Linked DNA regions of Homo sapiens. The protein of the gene in region 4 purifies or fractionates together with the protein of the main gene of each other region. This does not show direct contact. Each region holds a gene or a part of one and is shown on either strand. Other genes may lie near its edges.

What was found.
Region 1: the proteins of PIP4P2 (region 4) and VAMP7 purify together in Homo sapiens (affinity purification with mass spectrometry; one large-scale study listed by BioGRID and IntAct). This does not show direct contact.
Region 2: the proteins of PIP4P2 (region 4) and EIF2B3 purify together in Homo sapiens (affinity purification with mass spectrometry; one large-scale study listed by BioGRID and IntAct). This does not show direct contact.
Region 3: the proteins of PIP4P2 (region 4) and EDEM2 purify together in Homo sapiens (co-immunoprecipitation; one large-scale study listed by IntAct). This does not show direct contact.

Annotation. Positions count from the first base shown.
Region 1 is NC_000023.11:155,887,342-155,891,711, forward strand, and holds part of VAMP7 (vesicle-associated membrane protein 7), read left to right. Parts: intron 1-2,116; 5' UTR 2,117-2,125; coding exon 2,126-2,271; exon of another isoform or gene 2,272-2,287; coding exon of another isoform or gene 2,288-2,292; intron 2,293-4,370. UniProt on the Homo sapiens protein: Involved in the targeting and/or fusion of transport vesicles to their target membrane during transport of proteins from the early endosome to the lysosome. Required for heterotypic fusion of late endosomes with lysosomes and homotypic lysosomal fusion.
Region 2 is NC_000001.11:44,853,591-44,857,960, reverse strand, and holds part of EIF2B3 (translation initiation factor eIF2B subunit gamma), read left to right. Parts: intron 1-153; coding exon 154-257; intron 258-4,370. UniProt on the Homo sapiens protein: Acts as a component of the translation initiation factor 2B (eIF2B) complex, which catalyzes the exchange of GDP for GTP on the eukaryotic initiation factor 2 (eIF2) complex gamma subunit.
Region 3 is NC_000020.11:35,140,018-35,144,387, forward strand, and holds part of EDEM2 (ER degradation-enhancing alpha-mannosidase-like protein 2 isoform 1 precursor), read right to left. Parts: intron 2,462-4,370; coding exon 2,356-2,461; intron 1-2,355. Other genes in the region: MMP24-AS1-EDEM2 (ER degradation-enhancing alpha-mannosidase-like protein 2), read right to left, coding at 2,356-2,461. UniProt on the Homo sapiens protein: Involved in the endoplasmic reticulum-associated degradation (ERAD) pathway that targets misfolded glycoproteins for degradation in an N-glycan-dependent manner.
Region 4 is NC_000008.11:91,030,195-91,034,564, forward strand, and holds part of PIP4P2 (type 2 phosphatidylinositol 4,5-bisphosphate 4-phosphatase), read right to left. Parts: intron 1-4,370. UniProt on the Homo sapiens protein: Catalyzes the hydrolysis of phosphatidylinositol-4,5-bisphosphate (PtdIns-4,5-P2) to phosphatidylinositol-4-phosphate (PtdIns-4-P).

The DNA.
Region 1 (4,370 bases), on a different chromosome or scaffold from region 4:
AGTCGACATTTAGAGGTCAGGTAGAGGAGGAAGAGTCAGCAAGAAGACAAAAAGAGCAGCCAGAGATGTAGGAGCATTTCAAGAAGGAGGGTCGGTCAGCAGTGTTGACTGTGCCTAAGAGGTCAAGTAAGGTAAGAATAGAGAAGCAACCACTGTATTTTGCAATATAGAGGCTGTTGGTGACCTTAGGAAGCATGGTTTTCTGGAGTTTTAAGGGCAAAAGCTGGATTATAGTAAGTAGAAGAGTTGAAAGGAGGCAGAGGAGCAGAGATAATGCGTAACGATGCTTTGAAGAAACAGAACAGGGCCAGGTACGGTGGCTCATGCCTGTAATCCCAGCACTTTGGGAGGCCAAGGCAGGTGGATCACTTGAGCCCGGGAGTTCAAGACCAGCCTGGGTGACATGGTGAAACCCTGTCTGTACAAAAAAAAATACAAAAATAGCCGGACATGGTGGCACACACCTGTAGTCCCAGATACTCCAGAGGCTGAGGTAGGAGGATCACTTGAGCCTGATAAGTGGAGGCTGTAGTGAGCCAAGATTGTGCCACTGCACTCTAGCCTGGAGCTTGGGTGACAGAGCAAGACCCTGTCTCAAAAAAAAAAAAAAAAGAAAAGAAACAGAACAGTAGGATCCACAGTTAGGGAGGCTTTAGGATCAAGGGAGATAAAGTATAAGACAGCAATTTGGAAACTATAACTTACTGCATATGTGTAAGGAGAATTCTAGAAAGAAGATGGTTGAGATCACAACCCTGGGGAACAACTTCAGTTAGAGAGTAGGAATGAAAAAGAGATCCCCAAAAGGCATTCAGCCCAAGAGACAGATGAGCACCTTCTGCTCTGTGTGCTGTCCTTCCATGCTGGGATTGCAATAAGGAATCTGCACATTCCTTGATCTCAAACAGTTTATAGTTTGCTGTTGTGTTTCACAAAGTATGTTTGTGTGAATCACCTGCATCCAGACAGACTTGTATTAAATACAGATTCCAGGGCCCTACCTCAGGCCTACGGAATCAGAATTTCAGGAAGTGATGCCAAGAGTTTGAATTTTTAGCAAATGACTCATACTCTGCCACACAAGATGATTCGTATTCCCACTACAGTTTGAGAACCACTGGTATGTTGGGTACTGAGCATGTTAACAAATAAGAGTAGGTTTAACAGTTAATCGAAGACTAGACAAGGATTTGTTCATCTCTTTTTATGTTTATGCCATTAAATAAGAGAAGCTGGGCTTGTTAGGTGGGAAATAATAGCACATATTCATAGGCAGACATAAGGAAAATAATCTTAAACTCATGCCATATGGTTTTAGTAATGTTTTGTTTATGAAGGGTCTTACCATTCCTTTCTTGTGGAAGCTTTGAGTTATTTTCACTTTGTTTCTGTTATGGATAATGCCTTTATACTGGCAGTGTACAGTAAAAGGCTAAGATTATGAGCTCTAGAACCATACTGCCTAGGTTTAAATTGCAGCTCCACACTTACTAGCTCTGTAATTTGGGGGAAATTATTTAAGTCATCTGTGCTTCAGTTTTCTCATCTATAATAGAAGTATCATAATAGTGTATAATCTCATTGAGTTGTGAGGATTAAATGGATTAATAATTATAAAGTATTTAAAATGGTACCTGGCACATAGTAAACAATAAATATAGGCTATTTTTATTGTTAATAGTTATCTTTGTGAATCTAGAGTCTTAACTTCTGTTGAACTATTTCTCTAGGATAAATTTTCAGGATGGAATTTCTACATTAAAGAATGAAGACATCTTTATGTCCCTTTGCTATCTATAGTCATTGCTTTTCAAAAGGGTGATATCTGTTTGTGCTATAATAATTTGTAAATGCAAGCTATCAATGGTGTGTGTGTGTGTGTATGTGTTTTGTATGTCTCTTTATATGAATGCATACAAGCATGGCTTAGGTTGTAAGTTTGTAGAAAACTTTGACCTTCTTTTTAAGCCTGCTCTTAAGTCTGTTGTTAAGTTTCATGTTATAGTGCCTCGTTAGATACTATCTCCAGGTAGTATGTTGATAAATGATAGTAAGTTACCTTTGAAAGATTATGTCAAAGAAATATTCTAAATCTGTGTCTTTTTCCTTTTGATAGACTGAAGCCATGGCGATTCTTTTTGCTGTTGTTGCCAGGGGGACCACTATCCTTGCCAAACATGCTTGGTGTGGAGGAAACTTCCTGGAGGTGACAGAGCAGATTCTGGCTAAGATACCTTCTGAAAATAACAAACTAACGTACTCACATGGCAAGTGAGTTCTGTTCTGCATGTGGTAAGGGATGAAAGAAGGGAATTCTGTTACTCTAATCAGAACGGTAGAAAAGTAGAAAACAAGCTTCTAGGTACATAATTTGAATAAGCTGACAGAATAGTAACCTTCACCAACTTAGAAAATATATCTGGTTTTGTTACTTATAAATTTAACTTGTAATTATTTTATTCTATTATTGAAGTGATATTTTATTTTGAAGAAAGATGAAATGTTAAATGTAAAAATGACTTTGCTCTAGAGCTGTGTGATATGTGAAAATAATTCAGATAAGATAGATAATGTTCCTTTGTTCATTCTTTCAGTAAATATTTACTGAGCACTTAACTATTGCCAGGCACTTTGCTTGGTGCTGGGGATATAACAAGATATGTGGTATTTGCCCTCATAAGGGTTATAGTTTAATGAGGGAGAAAGTCAAATCCACGATGTCAAGGGTTGGGGGGATGGGAAGTAGTAGATAGGAGAATGGTATTCCAAGTAGAAGGAACAGCAGGTAGAGAAGTATGGAGGCATGAGATCATAGGGCGGGCATATTTAGGGAACTGCAGACTGTTCTCTGTGACTGGTGCCCAGGATGGTGAAAATAAAGCTAGAGAGATGGGTAGAAGAAAAGTCATGTAGGGCCTTGTAGGCCATATTAAGAGCTTGGACTTTACCTTGTGGGCAGTGGAAAGGCATTGAAGGTTTTCAGCCAGGGTGTGACAGAGTCAGGTTTGTTTTATTTATTTATTTATTTATTTATTTAGAAACAGAGTCTCACTCTGTCACCCAGGCTGGAGTGCAGTGGTGCGATCTTGGCTCACTGCAACCTCCATCTCCCAGGTTCAGATGATTCTCGTGCCTTAGCCTCCTGAGTAGCTGGGATTACAGGCGTGCACCACCATGCCCAGCTAATTTTTGTATTTTTAGTAGAGTTGGGGTTTCACCATGTTGGCCAGGCTTGTCTCAAGCTCCTGACCTCAGGTGATTCGCCTGCCTTGGCCTCCCAAAGCGTTGGGATTACAGGCGTGAGCCACTGCCCCTGGCCCTTCAGTCAGTTTTTGCTTTAGAAAGATCACTCTGGTGGCTTATTAGAGTGGCCATAGTTGGGAAATCTTAGTAATTAGTTTTAAAAAGTGCCTCAACCTTCCCCGTTGGCACTTAAAAATCTTTTCTTACTTAACCCAGCCTTACTTCCTTAGTTCTTATCTCAGAATGAGGTCCTTATTACTTTCTATGGCTAACCCCTTATACAGTTTAAGGTGTACTCTAAGCTACTATGAGAGAGACCCCCAAGATACAGTATTAATTTTAATGAGATAGTCCAGAGATGAGTGGTTTGGGATGTTGGGGTGGCTCTGCCATTTCCAATTCCCTAATTCCCAAAGCAATTAGTGCTTTCCACTTCTGGCCAAGGCAGCTCCTTTGGTGCTTGTTATATCCCAGTGCTTGCCCAGTAATTTTAAAGGCAGGGCCCAGAAGTGGCCTGATATTGTTGAGAAGCTTCCACTTACATCTTACTGTTCACTACACAGTCATGTAGCTAGCATAGCTAGAAGGGAGGCCAGGAATTGTCATCTCTGGCTATGTAGTCGTAGGCTCAACTAAAACTCTGTTACTCTGGAGGAAGTTATAGGATATCAGGGGATGACTTGCAGTCTTCCAGTCTACTCTCCTGGCCACCCAGATATTTCAGTGAACCTTTCTTCCCAAACATAGAATACGCCTCTTCTCTGAGAGAGGTAGCTCCAAAGACCTATCTAGTCACTGTGTTTGGCTCCAAGTCCAGCATGTCTAGGTGGTACACAGTCCTATCCATCAGGCCCTGGTGTGGCTCCTGTGGTCCACTGACCATAAAGTAAAAGATAAGTCATATGTTTTCCCTGCTTTCCCAGCCTAACCCAGTAGACAATGGTGAAATAAGAAAAGGATCATCACAGTGAGAGTTACAAACTCCCATTTGGAAAAGGGAAGAATGAGAAACATGTAGAAGTCATTGCTTTCCAGTAATGATCAAATAATTGCCTCACACAATTTCAAAGACTCCCTATTCTGACCAGGAAGTGGTTAGTGGTTCTGCTTTCTTGGAGGAACTCCCT
Region 2 (4,370 bases), on a different chromosome or scaffold from region 4:
ATTCTGTCTTCCACTGATAACTTGAGGCACGTAGCCATTAACTGGACTGCCCAGCTGTTCCTGGCCTAGGGAGGAGCCAGAACCCCCAACCAATAGTAATGAGGATGGTGATGCGAGCCTTGGGTCCTCCCTAACTTGGCTACTGTGTTACAGAAGCAATATCCAAGGCAGTGTCATCTGCAACAATGCTGTGATCGAGAAGGGTGCAGACATCAAGGACTGCTTGATTGGAAGTGGCCAGAGGATTGAAGCCAAAGGTAAACCAGATTACAATCACAGATTCCATTTTTACTTCTCACACCAGCACTGATAATGCCAAAGGCTGGTGAGGATGTGGGAAACAAGCACATACGTACACTGCGGGCGAGAACATAAATTGATAAAGCCATCTTTGGAGAGCAGTTGACATCACTGTCAATTTTTTTTTTTTTTTCGGAGTTTCACTCTTGTTGCCCAGGCTGGTGTGCAATGGTGCAATCTCAGCTCACTGAAACCTCCGCCTCCCGGGTTCAAGCGATTCTTCTGCCTCAGTCTCCTGAGTCGCTGGAATTACAGGCATGTGCCACCACGCCCAGCTAATTTTTTGTATTTTTAGTAGAGATGGCGTTTCTCCATGTTGGTCAGGCTGGTTGCGAACTCCCGACCTCAGGAGAACTGCCCACCTCAGCCTCCCAAAGTGCTGGGATTACAGGCGTAAGCCACCGCACCTGGCATCACTGTCAAATTTTTTTACTTTGACTTAACAGTTTCATTTCTAGAAATTAATCTTATAGATAAGCTTATACATGTATGCACCCTTAATCTCAAAACCTTGAAAACATATCAATAGATCTAATGGCCCAGGTTGGCACCAATACTGTACAGTGATTCTTGAAGCCTAGGCACAGTGGTTCATGCCAATAATCCCAACACTTTGGGAGGCTGAAATGTGAGGATCGCTTGAGCCTAGACAACATAGCAGGAACCCATCTCTACAAAAAAATTAAAAATTAGCCAGGCACAGTGGCACACACGTGTTGTCCCAGCTACTCAAGAGGCTGAGGCAGGAGGATTGCTTGAGCCTGAGAGGTCAAGGCTGCAGTGAGCTGAGATCGCACCACTGCACTCTAGCCTGGGTGACAGAGGGAGACCCTGTCTTAAAAATAATAATAAAAATTAAAATGACTGATTGCTTTTGGTATTATTCCTAAACCTAAAATAAGGTGGGGAGGGGAGTTGCTGAAGGAATTAACCCCACCAACTCTGTAGACGCCACATCATTTCCTTCTTCAGTTTCTTCCCCCTTCCCTTTTTTAAAGTCATATGCCTTCCTTTTGGGCTTTAGAATCAAACAGACCTCAGTTCACATCTCAACTCAACTTAGTGGCTGTGCACCAAGTGAAATTTTTAATCATTAAGCCCTCAGATTTTCCTTTTTTTTTTTTTTTTTTTTAATTTTAATTTTTTGAGACAGAGTCTTGCTCTGTCGCCTAGGCTGGAGTACAGTAGTGCTATCTCAGCTCACTGCAGCCTCCTCCTCCTGGATCCAGGTGGTTCTTGTGCCTCAGCCTCCCGGGCAGCTGAGACTACAGGGGCACACCACCACCCTTGGCTAATTTTTGTGTTTTTAGTAGAGACAGGGTTTTGCAATGTCACCCAGGCTGGTCTTGAACTCCTGGCCTCAAGCAAGCCACCCACCTCACTTTCCCAAAGTGCTGAGATTACAGGTATGAGCCACTGCGCCCAGCCCCAGATTTTCTTAATTAGACAATTGGGACAATAATAGCTACCTTGGAGAATTGTGAGAATTACATATAATTAAATGACAGGTATATGCACTACTCCTTGAGTGTACCAAAAGACTTAGAATTCCTCATACATACCGTGCCATTATACCTCTCCATGCTTTTACATGTGCTCTCTCTAGATTTCCTCTCTTGAAGACTCCGACCAAGTGTTTTCTCCTTTGTAGAACCTTCTCTGCCTCTTCCCATGACTCCCCATAGCAGAACTACACATTCCTTCCACTGTGTCCTTGAGCTTTGCCACACCTTTATTAAAGTATGTTTCACAAGCCATGGCAATTATCCGTGAATCAGCCTTCCCTACTAAGATCCTCAAGGTCAGCTGGGCATGATGGCTCACACCTGTAATCCTAGCACTTTGGGAGGCCGAAGTGGGCGGATCACCTGAGGTCAGGAGTTCGAAACCAGCCTGACCAACATGGTGAAACCCCGTCTCTACTAAAAATACAAAAAATAGCCAAGTGTGGTAGTGCATGCCTGTAATCCCAGCTACCTGGGAGGTTGAGGCAGGAGAATTGCTGGAACCCAGGAGGCGGAGGCTGCAGTGAGCTGAGACTGCACCACTACACTCCAGTCTGGGTGACAGAGCAAGACTCCATCTCAAAAAAAAAAAAAAGATCCTCAAGGTCGATTGTCTCATAACTATATGCATCCCTAGCTCTCAGAACAGGTCCTGATTTATGGTAAATGCTCAGAAGGGGAAAAGAGTGAATGAATGAATGTTGGATCCATGAAACATATTTTGGGGGATTTCAGGGTATAAAGTTAGGGTTCCAAGAAAGGCCTCTGTGCGATGGTTGCAATCATCATGAGATGGGCTTCATAAACTCCTGGGCTTTCTGGCTTTAATTAACACTATGTGTCCACCTTTTAGCAAGGAGACCCTTTAATGGTCCTGCTGAAGGAGGGCTGGCCAGGGAAGTCATCTTGTCTGGGCTCTAAACTGGACAACCCCACCACTTCCTTCTCTCTGTCCTCTGCTGGAAGGACCAGTGCATCCAGCACAGTGGTCAGTGCCCTCCTGCCACAGGAACTCCCTGGCCAGTTGCCTTTTTCCACTATTACTTCTTCTTTTTTTTTTTTTTTTGAGACTGAGCCGTATGGTGAAAGCAAACTCCTAACCATCAGTGCAGCACTCAAGACTTGTTACTATAGGTGACCTAGGCAAACACCAACAACTCACATCCTTACCAGCAAAGAGCTCAATAGATGGCAAAGTCTTCCGTCAGTCTTCCTCACATGAAGGGGTTTCAGGAAAAAACATTCATCCTAAGAAATAATGCAGTCTCAGCCGGATGCGGTGGCTCATGCCTGTAATCCCAGCACTTTGGGAGGCTGAGGCGGGTGGATCCCTGTGGTCAAGAGTTCGAGACCAGCCTGACCAACATGGAGAAACCCCATCTCTACTAAAAATACAAAAAATTAGCCGGGCGTGGTAGTGCATGCCTGTAATCCCAGCTACTTGGAAGGCTGAGGCAGAAGAATTGCCTGAACCTGGAAGGCAGAGGTTGTGGTGAGCTGAGATCACGCCATCACACTCCATCTTGGGCAACAAGAGCGAAACTCCATCTCAAAAAAAAAAAAAAAGACATAATGCAGTCTCCTCTCCAAATTCTAATCATTTTCATGCTCCAGAGTCACCACATCCATAGCAGTCTTTTTCCCCAAAAGTATGGCTCGTAACTCAGTGTAGGCCTCCCTACCCTCTTCTAGCACCAACACGAAAACAAGCCATTTTATAACAACTCTGACTTTTCTCACCCCATCCCAATACTCTCATTGGTTATCTCTGGCAAAAATACTGGCAGCCAAATTTGACCTTCTCAAGCAGTAGAATGGCTACAGCTAACAGTCAAAACCTAAAAAATGGCTGGGTACAGAGGCTGTAGCTCACGCCTGTAATCCCAGCACTTTGGGAGACCAAGGCGAGTGGATCACTTGAGGTCAAGAGTTCGAGACCAGCCCAGCCAACATGGTGAAACCTCATCTCTACTAAAAATACAAAAATTAGCTGTGTGTGATGGCACACACCTGTAATCCCAGCTACTTGGGAGGCTGAGGCAGGAGAATCACTTGAACCTGGGAGGCGGAGGTTGCAGTGAGCAGAGATCATACCACTGCACTCCAGCCTGGGCAACAGAGCAAGACTCCATTCAGAAAAAAAAAAAACAAAAAAAAAAAACACTAACTGCTAAAAGCATGCTTCATCTGAGTCTCTTCTTACAGTCAGTGACAGAACTTGGATCTCTTCCCTATGGCCAGAGTGATCAGTTCTTTGACCATGAAAGTAGACCTGGTATAGGTCAGGCTGTTGATGTATACTTGACACAGGTCAAATCCTCCTGGCCAGCAGGAAGCTTTCCCAGTTTCCCAACAGTGCACCTTTTATTTGTGATGTTTTTCCCTTCTATCCCATTGCTATTTTCCCAACTTATCATCCTCCCTTGTATTTTTCCCCTTGGGATCTTTCCCAACCTGATTCCAGCCCAAAGATTTTCCAGTGTATTTACTGGACCCTACTCCCATCCCTGACCAAGCATCACTAGCTTTGCTTAGTTTTTTGTTTTTTTGAGACAGGGTCTTACT
Region 3 (4,370 bases), on a different chromosome or scaffold from region 4:
ATACACCCAGCAAAAATATCACTCAAAGGCCAACCAAAGGCAGTTGAATAAAGACATTTTCATATAAACAAAAGCTGGGAATGTTTATGAAGCACACACCTGCATTAAAGGAAATTCTAAAGGAAATACTTTAGAGAAAAGGTCTGAGACACGAAAAGAAAAAATAGTCAAAAAAGTGGTAAATAGGCCAGGCACAGTGGCTAAACCTGTAATTCCAGCACTTTGGGAAGCCAAAGCAGGTGGATCACTCAAGATCATGAGTTTGAGACCAGCCTGGCCAATGTGGTGAAACACCATCTCTACTAAAAATACAAAAATTAGCCTGGTGTGGTGGTGCACAACTGTAATCCCAGCTACTCTGGAGGCTGAGGCAGGAGAATCGTTTAAACCCAGGAGGTGGAGGTGAGCCAAGATCGCGCCACTGCACTCCAGCCTGGGTGGCAGAGTGAGACTCTATTTCAAACCAACAACAACAAAAAAAGTGGTAAATTTATGTGTAAATGCAAAACTTCAACAATATAGAACAAAAATTATAATGTATGGAAGGTTTAAAACAAATAACTAAAATATATAACTGTAGCATATAGGTCAGGATGTTCTCTAAGTCAGGTTTTGCATTATTCAGGAGGAGAACAAAGATTTTCATTAAATTTAGACTTTGATAAGTTATGTTTGTTAAATTTGCTTGGAAAACTATGTAAAAAGCTAGATATTGTGCATAATTTCCATATTAGTAAGAGGAAAATGGAATGGGGGGAAAACAATCTAAAGAAGGCATGAAAAAGGACAGAATAAAGGAACATAAAGAAGATGGCACAGGGCCAGGTGCAGTGGCTCACACCTATAATCCCAGCACTTTGGGAGGCTGATGGGGGGCGGATCACCTGAGGTCAGGAGTTCGAGACTAGCCTGGCCAACATGGTGAAACCCCATCTCTACTAAAAATACAAAAATTAGCAGGGCACGGTGGCAGGCACCTGCAATCCCAGCTACATAGGAGGCTGAGACAGGAGAATCGCCTGAACCCGGGAGGCAGAGGTTGCAGTAAGCCAAGATTGCACCACTACACTCCCGCCTGGGCGACAGAGTGAGACTCCGCCTCAAAAAAAAAAAAAAAAAAAAAAAAAAGAAGACGGCACAGAGAGCACAATACTGTAGAAATGAGTGCAAATATATCAGTAATTACAGTAAATGTAAATGGATTAAATGTGCCAGTTAAAGATTGTCAGAATGGATAAACAAAATATAATACACTATTTGCAAAAGATGTATCTAATCATAAAACTACAGAAAGATGGAAAGGATAGAAAAAGATACATGGGAAAATGTCAACCAAAAGAAAGCTGGTATCACTTATATTCCTATCAGAAATAAAGGTATAAGAATGACCTTCATTTACAGATGACAAACTGGGCTCAGAAGCTGGGAGACATAGCAGCAAGTACAGCCTCAAACTCAGGCCGGATTCCTAAACCAGGATTTTAGACCATGTTGTCCCTCTGCTCTCTTCTCTTTTTTAATCTTTTATGGATCATATGTCTGGAATATAAGTTTCATTGCAGAAAACATACAAAATAATGGGGAAAAATAGAACTCTGCCATCCAGAGGTGACAGCTGTTAAGTGGTCTAGAGGTTCGATGCAAATAAGGGCTGTGCTGGCTTCACAAGAATCACTGGAAGTCTGCTAAAAATACTGATTCTAGGACCCAACACAGAGATTCCAATTCATTAGGTTTAGGGTGGAGTCTCAACATCTGAATTTTTTAACCACTTGGGAGTGGTTCCTATGGGCTGCCAAGTTTGGAAGATTAATGCTGTAGATTTGCACTGTCCAATACAATAATCACTAACTACATGTGACTACTTAAATTTAATATCATTAAAATTAAATGAAATTAAAAATTCAATTCCATAGTTGTAGTAGATACATTTCAAATGCTCAATAGCTCATGTGGTTCGTGGCTACCATACTGGACAAAACACAGCTATAAGACATTTCCATCACTGCAGAAAATTGGATTGGACAGACAATAAGTTCCAAGAAGGCAAGGATCATATCTTTCTTGTTCATAGCTGTATGCCTAGTATCAAATACATATTAAAGAGGTGAGTAATCTGGTGTATTTCTTTCCAGTCTCTTAGTCTCCTGCTCACTTTCATATCTGAAACTGATGGGGAAATCCTGAGACTTCCCCACCTCACCCTCCAGGAGGGAAGAAGAGCTCTGTCGGTCAGAGGTTTTGGCCAAGGGTCCTGGCATGGTCAGTCCTTAAAATCCTATTTACCACTTCTTGGTTTACAGAGGCAACTTCACACTCTTTTTTCTTTTAAAGGTCCTAGAGAGCAGCCCTTACCTCGAATGTTTGTTTCAAACACAGAGGCGTTCACATCAATATCAAAGTCCACGCTGTCCTGGAGCACTTCAACCACTCTTTGGAATTCTGAGACATTCCCCAAAATCTGGAAATAAAAAAGAGACCTGACAATGAGGCTCTTACATGCATGGAGGCAGATTCAGAGTCTGGGATCCTATGTTGATGTGGCCCTCACTAATTCCACTTAAGACCTCCAGTTTCTGTCCTAGGATTGGTGACAGCAGAAGAAAACACTGAGAGCTAGAAATCATCTAGAGACTTCATACCAAGAGACTGGTTAAGTAAATTCCTAGGTCCCAATTAAGAGTCACGATGTTGTCATTTAAATGGACACAATATAAAGAACGCAAACTACGCATAGAAGTCTTAGGTTTTTTGTTTCGTTTTTTTGAGACAGAGTCTCGCTCTGCTGCCCAGGGTAGAGTGCAGTGGCGTGATCTTGGCTCACTTCAAACTCCGCCTCCTGGGTTCAAGCGATTCTCCTGCCTCAGCCCCGAGTAGCTGGGATTATGCACCACCATGCCCGGCTAATTTTTGTATTTTTAGTAGAGACGGGGTTTCACCATGTTGATCAGGCTGGTCTCAAACTCCTGACCTCATGATCCACCCGCCTTGGCCTCCCAAAGTGCTGGGATTACAGGTGTGAGCGACCGCACCTGGCCAAAAGTCTTAGTTTGACATTTGCAGTAGATACCAGTTGTCACCTTCAACCTTGTGGAAAACAGAACAGGTTGGTTGGCCCAAAACAAATTCATTCCTACCCTCTTTACCTCATGGCCTCCCACCAGAGGTTGGAAATCCAGAAGCTTTCTCGGCCTCCTTTGCTGCTGCAGTTGATTGTGTTACCCAGTCAATTCTGACCCTTGAGAGGTCTACTGGGGGCACTTCTGGGAAGGCTTCTGTTTTCTTAATACCAAGGGACAAACACAGCTAACATGGCTTTTAGTCTCTCTCTTTCTGCCTTGAACTCAGACTCGATTTCTGAAGTGATGGCAGCTATGTGAGACCATGACGTACTAAGCATTAGAATAAAAGCCAAAACACTAACGATACTAGAATGCAAAGCTACAAAGAGGCTGGTCTCTAATGACACAGTTGCGTAGCTGACCCAATGCTAGAAATTACCTCTAGACTTTCTTTTACTTGAGAAAATAAACCCTCTTTATTTAAACCGTTAGCCAAATGCAATCTCAATCTCTCTTCTTTTGATAGTAACATCTCAATTTACCCTCGAGGAATCACTCTTCCCCGGCAGTCACTCCTGTGGTTTGGGAGAGGCTGATCCCATCCCTCTAGCTGTGGAGTGGGTACTTGACCTGAACCAGTCCAAGTCTTTTTTTTGAGACAGGGTCTTGCTCTGTTACACAGGTTGGAGTGCAGTGGTGTGATCATAGCTCATCACAGCCTCGAACTCTGGGACTTGAGCAATGTTGGCCTCCCAAAGTGCTGGGATTACAGGCATGAGCCACCACACCTGGCCCTTTTTACCTTTCTAAGCATCAGGTTTCTTTTATATCTTTTTTTTGTTTGTGTGAGACAGGGTTTTACTCTGTTACCCAGACCAGAGTGCAGTGGTGCGATCTCGGCTCACTGCAACCTCTGCCTCCCTGACTCAAACAATCCTCCTACCTCACCCTCCTCCCTAACAAATGGAGCCACAGACATGTGCCATCATGCCTAATTTTTTATATTTTTGGTAGAGACGGGGTTTCACCATATTGCCCAGGCTGGTCTTGAACTCCTGTGCTCAAGCAGTCCTGCCGCCTTGGCCTCCCAAAGTGCTGGGATTACAGGCGTGAGCCACTGTGCCCATCCCTAAGCATCAGGTTTCTTAACGATAAGAAGGAGTAAAGGTACTAACCTCAAGAAGTTGTTAGAAGAATTAATACATGTCTGTACTAAGCCCTACAGAAACATACTAACTAGTCACTGATATTATTTCTTTATAATTTTTTTTGAGATGAAGTTTCACTCTTGTCACCCAGGCTGGAGTG
Region 4 (4,370 bases):
CAGAGCAAGACTCCATCTCAAAAAAAAAAAAAAAAAAGTAGATCTCATTTGGAAAAGACTATAAATGGCTAATAAGTGTATGAGGCAATGAGTATGGTCTTAGGGAAAAGTGTATAGATAGTAATAGATCTTCCATCTCAAAACAGGATTCTTCCTATTAATATCTTTATAGGCTGGAGTAATCAAGCAGGATGAAATAACATATGCAACTGCAAGGACCTATACAGAGATGTGGGGACACAGCCTAAAAAAATGGCTTTGTTAACATGTTTGAGGTACTAATCCAAGACAAACTTCACAAATACCAATAATATAATGTAGCCAAAGTTTAATGTATTTATTACATATTAAATTTTTATTAGTAATATATTGGCATGGCTCAAAAATGAAAATCATGTAAAAAGGCATATGCTCAGAATTGTTACTCCAACCCTTATGCCCATTCGCCAAGTCTTACTTCAGAGATTTCCACTTATGTTATTATTATGTATCCTTTAAGTATTCCTTGAGTGTAGCACAGGTAATATACACATATACATATTCTCATTTATTCCATCATTCTTACAAAAGAGAGTATGACTTATAAACTATTCTTCATCTCATTGTTTTTTCATTTTACAGTGTATCTTTCCATAACTGTATATAGAGTTTAATAATTTCTTTTCCAGCATCATGTTGTTTCATTCTATGGATATGACATGGCTTATTATGGTGGTTTTACAAAAAAGCCACAACTTCTTTGGCACTGCTCCCATTGAGAGGTAAGGTCTTGAATCTGGGTATTTGTAACTGCTTTGACAAATAGAGGATGGCAGAAATGACATTATATTTGACTTTTGAAGCTGGGTCATAAAAGACCACATGGCTTCCACTTAGGTCATCTTGTATTCAGGCATGTCTGATAGTTTTAATAATGACCTATGTCCTCATTAAGGGATGGTAGCAAATCCAAATACGACTTTTGCTGAGCCTGGCAAGGTATTTTATATAGAGAACTAGAACATGACAACCAAATTCTATAAACTTGGAAAATGCTTTTGTTACAAAACTTTAAAATAACTTTATATTAGTTTGTAAAATCCATACAGCTAATAGAAATCAATGTTTATTTGGATATGTCCAATGGTCTAAAAGGTGTCTGAAAATCTCACTTTAAGTCTACTCACTATCATTTCTCTATATTGTTTCTCCTCTGGATTGTCAGTCTTAGCACTTAATCTCTCAAACAATAAAATGTCATATTGTAACATGCCGTCTTCCAAATTCTCCCCCTGTGGAAATCACATGTTAAAAATGTCAAAAAATTCGGGGCTTTCTTGTACACTGTTTTAAAATCCTTACTACAGATTGACCAAGCCTAAATATCTCAATATGAGAGGAAGAAAAATTTTGCCATTGCCTTTAGAAGTAAATGCTTAGAATAAAATGCCCTAATCAATCATGCAGCACACACATGCAAATATATTCTACAGAGAAATAAAACAGTGCATGCTAGTTGGGCTTCTAATTTTTACAAGAGTCATGTAACATCCTTAATCTTCAATATATTATCTTTCTCATTTCTAAAAGCATACTGGAAGGAATAGCTATTTAGGTGAAAGAGGGACATTGGAAGTAAAAGAGTGAGATAAGAAAGGATAACAAGCATCTACATTTTAAATTTATAGATATATTTTCCTAAGTGTGTCCAGCTTCCTAAGAACAACTGTGTCATAAAATATAAAAGCCAAAGGTAAATTTATAGATATATTTTCCTAAGTGTGTCCAGCTTCCTAAGAACAACTGTGTCATAAAATATAAAAGCCAAAGGAAACATAATGCACCACTCCTTGGATAAATGTGGGAAACTGAGGCCCTGAGATGTAAAGTAACGATTCCAAGGCCAAACAGGTAGTAACTGGCGGAGATAAAAAGCCTCAGGTCTCCCAAGCCAAACACTACCTGGTGGCAGACCTTCTCTGGACTCTAAAGGGAGTTAGTTACACAATACTTGCACAATGCACCTGAAGTCCAGAAAAAGGAACCATGCTTTTTGCTTTTTTCACATTTGGTTGTTGTGGTTTTTACAGAAGAAAAGGAACTCACTTTACAACAGCAACTGGAAAAGAAAAAATCTAGAAAAGTTCAAAAGCAACATAAACTCCTTTGCACACCCCCATTACCACCAAAAATTTTTCTAAAAAAGCATAGAAACCCTCATAAAATAACAGAAACAGCAGGAAGAATGTATTCCTTTTCAGGAGCTACTATGGAATGCCATTCCCAATTTATTGAATACCTCTTACTCATTAAAAATGAAGCACAGGCCAGGCGCGGTGGCTCATGCCTGTAATCCAAGCACTTTGGGAGGCCAAGGTGGGTGGATCATTTGAGGTCAGGAGCTCGAGACCAGCCTGGCCAACATGGTGAAACCCCACCTCTCCTAAAAATACAAAAATTAGTCAAGTGTGGTGGCAGGCACCTGCAGTCTCATCTACTTGGGAGGCTGAGGAAGGAGAATTGCTTGAACCTAGGAGGTAGGGGTTGCAGTGAGCCGAGATCATGCCACTGCACTCCAGCCTGGGCAACAGAGTGAGAGTCTGTCTCAAAAAAAAAAAAAAAAAAAAAGAAAGAAACACAAAACACCTGAGCACAAGGTGTATTCAGGGTTACCTGCTTTTCCCAAATGGAAGTATTACAGTTTCCATTTAGATCACTTCCCAGATAGCTGTTTATTGCCCTCAAAGATAGTTATGAACATCCCTCCTGTTAACTTTCTTCTCCAATATCTATATCCATCTAGCTAACATTTGTATGCATTTGGCAAACCTTCCAAAATTTTAACAGAATGCTCTACCCTACAAGTTTTACATTCTTGAAGAGTCTGCATAGTCCTTGGAAACAAACAGGAAATTGAGAGCATCGTCTCCCTCTCCAGGAAAATGCTACTGTACATTTAATAAATAATTGTTGAATGAAATTTGCTCTCCAACCCCAAGTTTTCTCAGACCTCAGATTTGTACAACAAACTGCCTAATTCACATTTCTAATTGAATAACTAAAGGTATTGCAAACTCCACATGACTGAAACAGAATAGTGACTTCCACTGTTCTTCTCCCACCTCCCAAACACATGGCCAACTCTTCCTCCTGTTTGCCTATCTCAGATATAACCTTGTACCTACTTAGTTGGGTCATTTTTGGAGATTTGTGATTCCTTTCTTTTCACTGACTCAACCCATCAGCAAGTCCTGTTTAAAATACATCCTGACACCAACCACACCTCAGTGCTTCTGTCACCTGTACCCTGGTCCCCTGTTGCCTCTTCTGCTCTAACAGCATCCTGATTAGTGTCATGTCTCATTAGTCTGTTCTCCTCCACATGCCAACCAAGGGTGATTTTTTTAAAAAGTAAAGTGTTTTCATGTCTCTCCTTTGCTCCAACCTCTCCATAGCTTCTCATTATCCTCAGGACATAATCCCTTCTTCAGCAGGTGGAATAGAAATCTCCCCTGGGCTTCCCTCATTTACACCTCGCACCTCCTCTACCTCTTCTGCTGTCCTCTAAGTCACCATGCTCTAACCCACTGTCCCTTGTTTTTGTTTATTTATTTATTTATTTTTGAGACAGAGTCTCACTCTGTTGCGCAGGCTGGAGTACAATGGCACAATCGCAGCTCACTGCAGCCTCAAGCTCCTGGGCTCAAGAGATCCTCCAGCATCAGGCTCATGAGTAGCTGGGACTACAGGCATGAGCCGCAGTGCCCAGCCTCCTCCTTGTTTTTAAAATAGCAAGTGTTATACTTGCTGTTCCCGTTGCCTGGAGCACTCTTTCAGTAAATCTTCCAAAGGCTGATCCAACTCATGTTTCAGGTCTCTCGGTGATTGCTATCTCTGAGTTGTCTTTCCTGGACGCTCATCTCAAACATTTGCCATCCAAACAGTTACTCTCCACCCTCACAGGTTGCTTTATTTTCTTCACCCTCTGAAATTATAACGCTTACTGTATGTATCTCTCACAGGAATGTAAGCTCTCCAGCATCTGGAATACTGTAATAGGCATTCAAATATTTGAAAGGATGACTGAATGAAACATTTCTTAATATTTTAAAGATGCTCAGTATAGACAGAAGGAAATGTGGGCATTATAAAACAGAATATAAGAATCCTGGAGCCTGATGCCTACAGAATAATGACAAAAAGACTACAACAGCAAATGAGCTCACCACCATACTGGAAAGCTAGAAGCCGATCTATTTCACCAATGTGTGGGCTCTATTTTTCCTTGAAGAGGATGTGGCCTCAGTGAAGCAAATTTTGATTCAAGAACCATTTTGAAAAAAATTCCCTTAAATGGAGCATTAGCATTAGCATAGCACAATAGGCTTCTC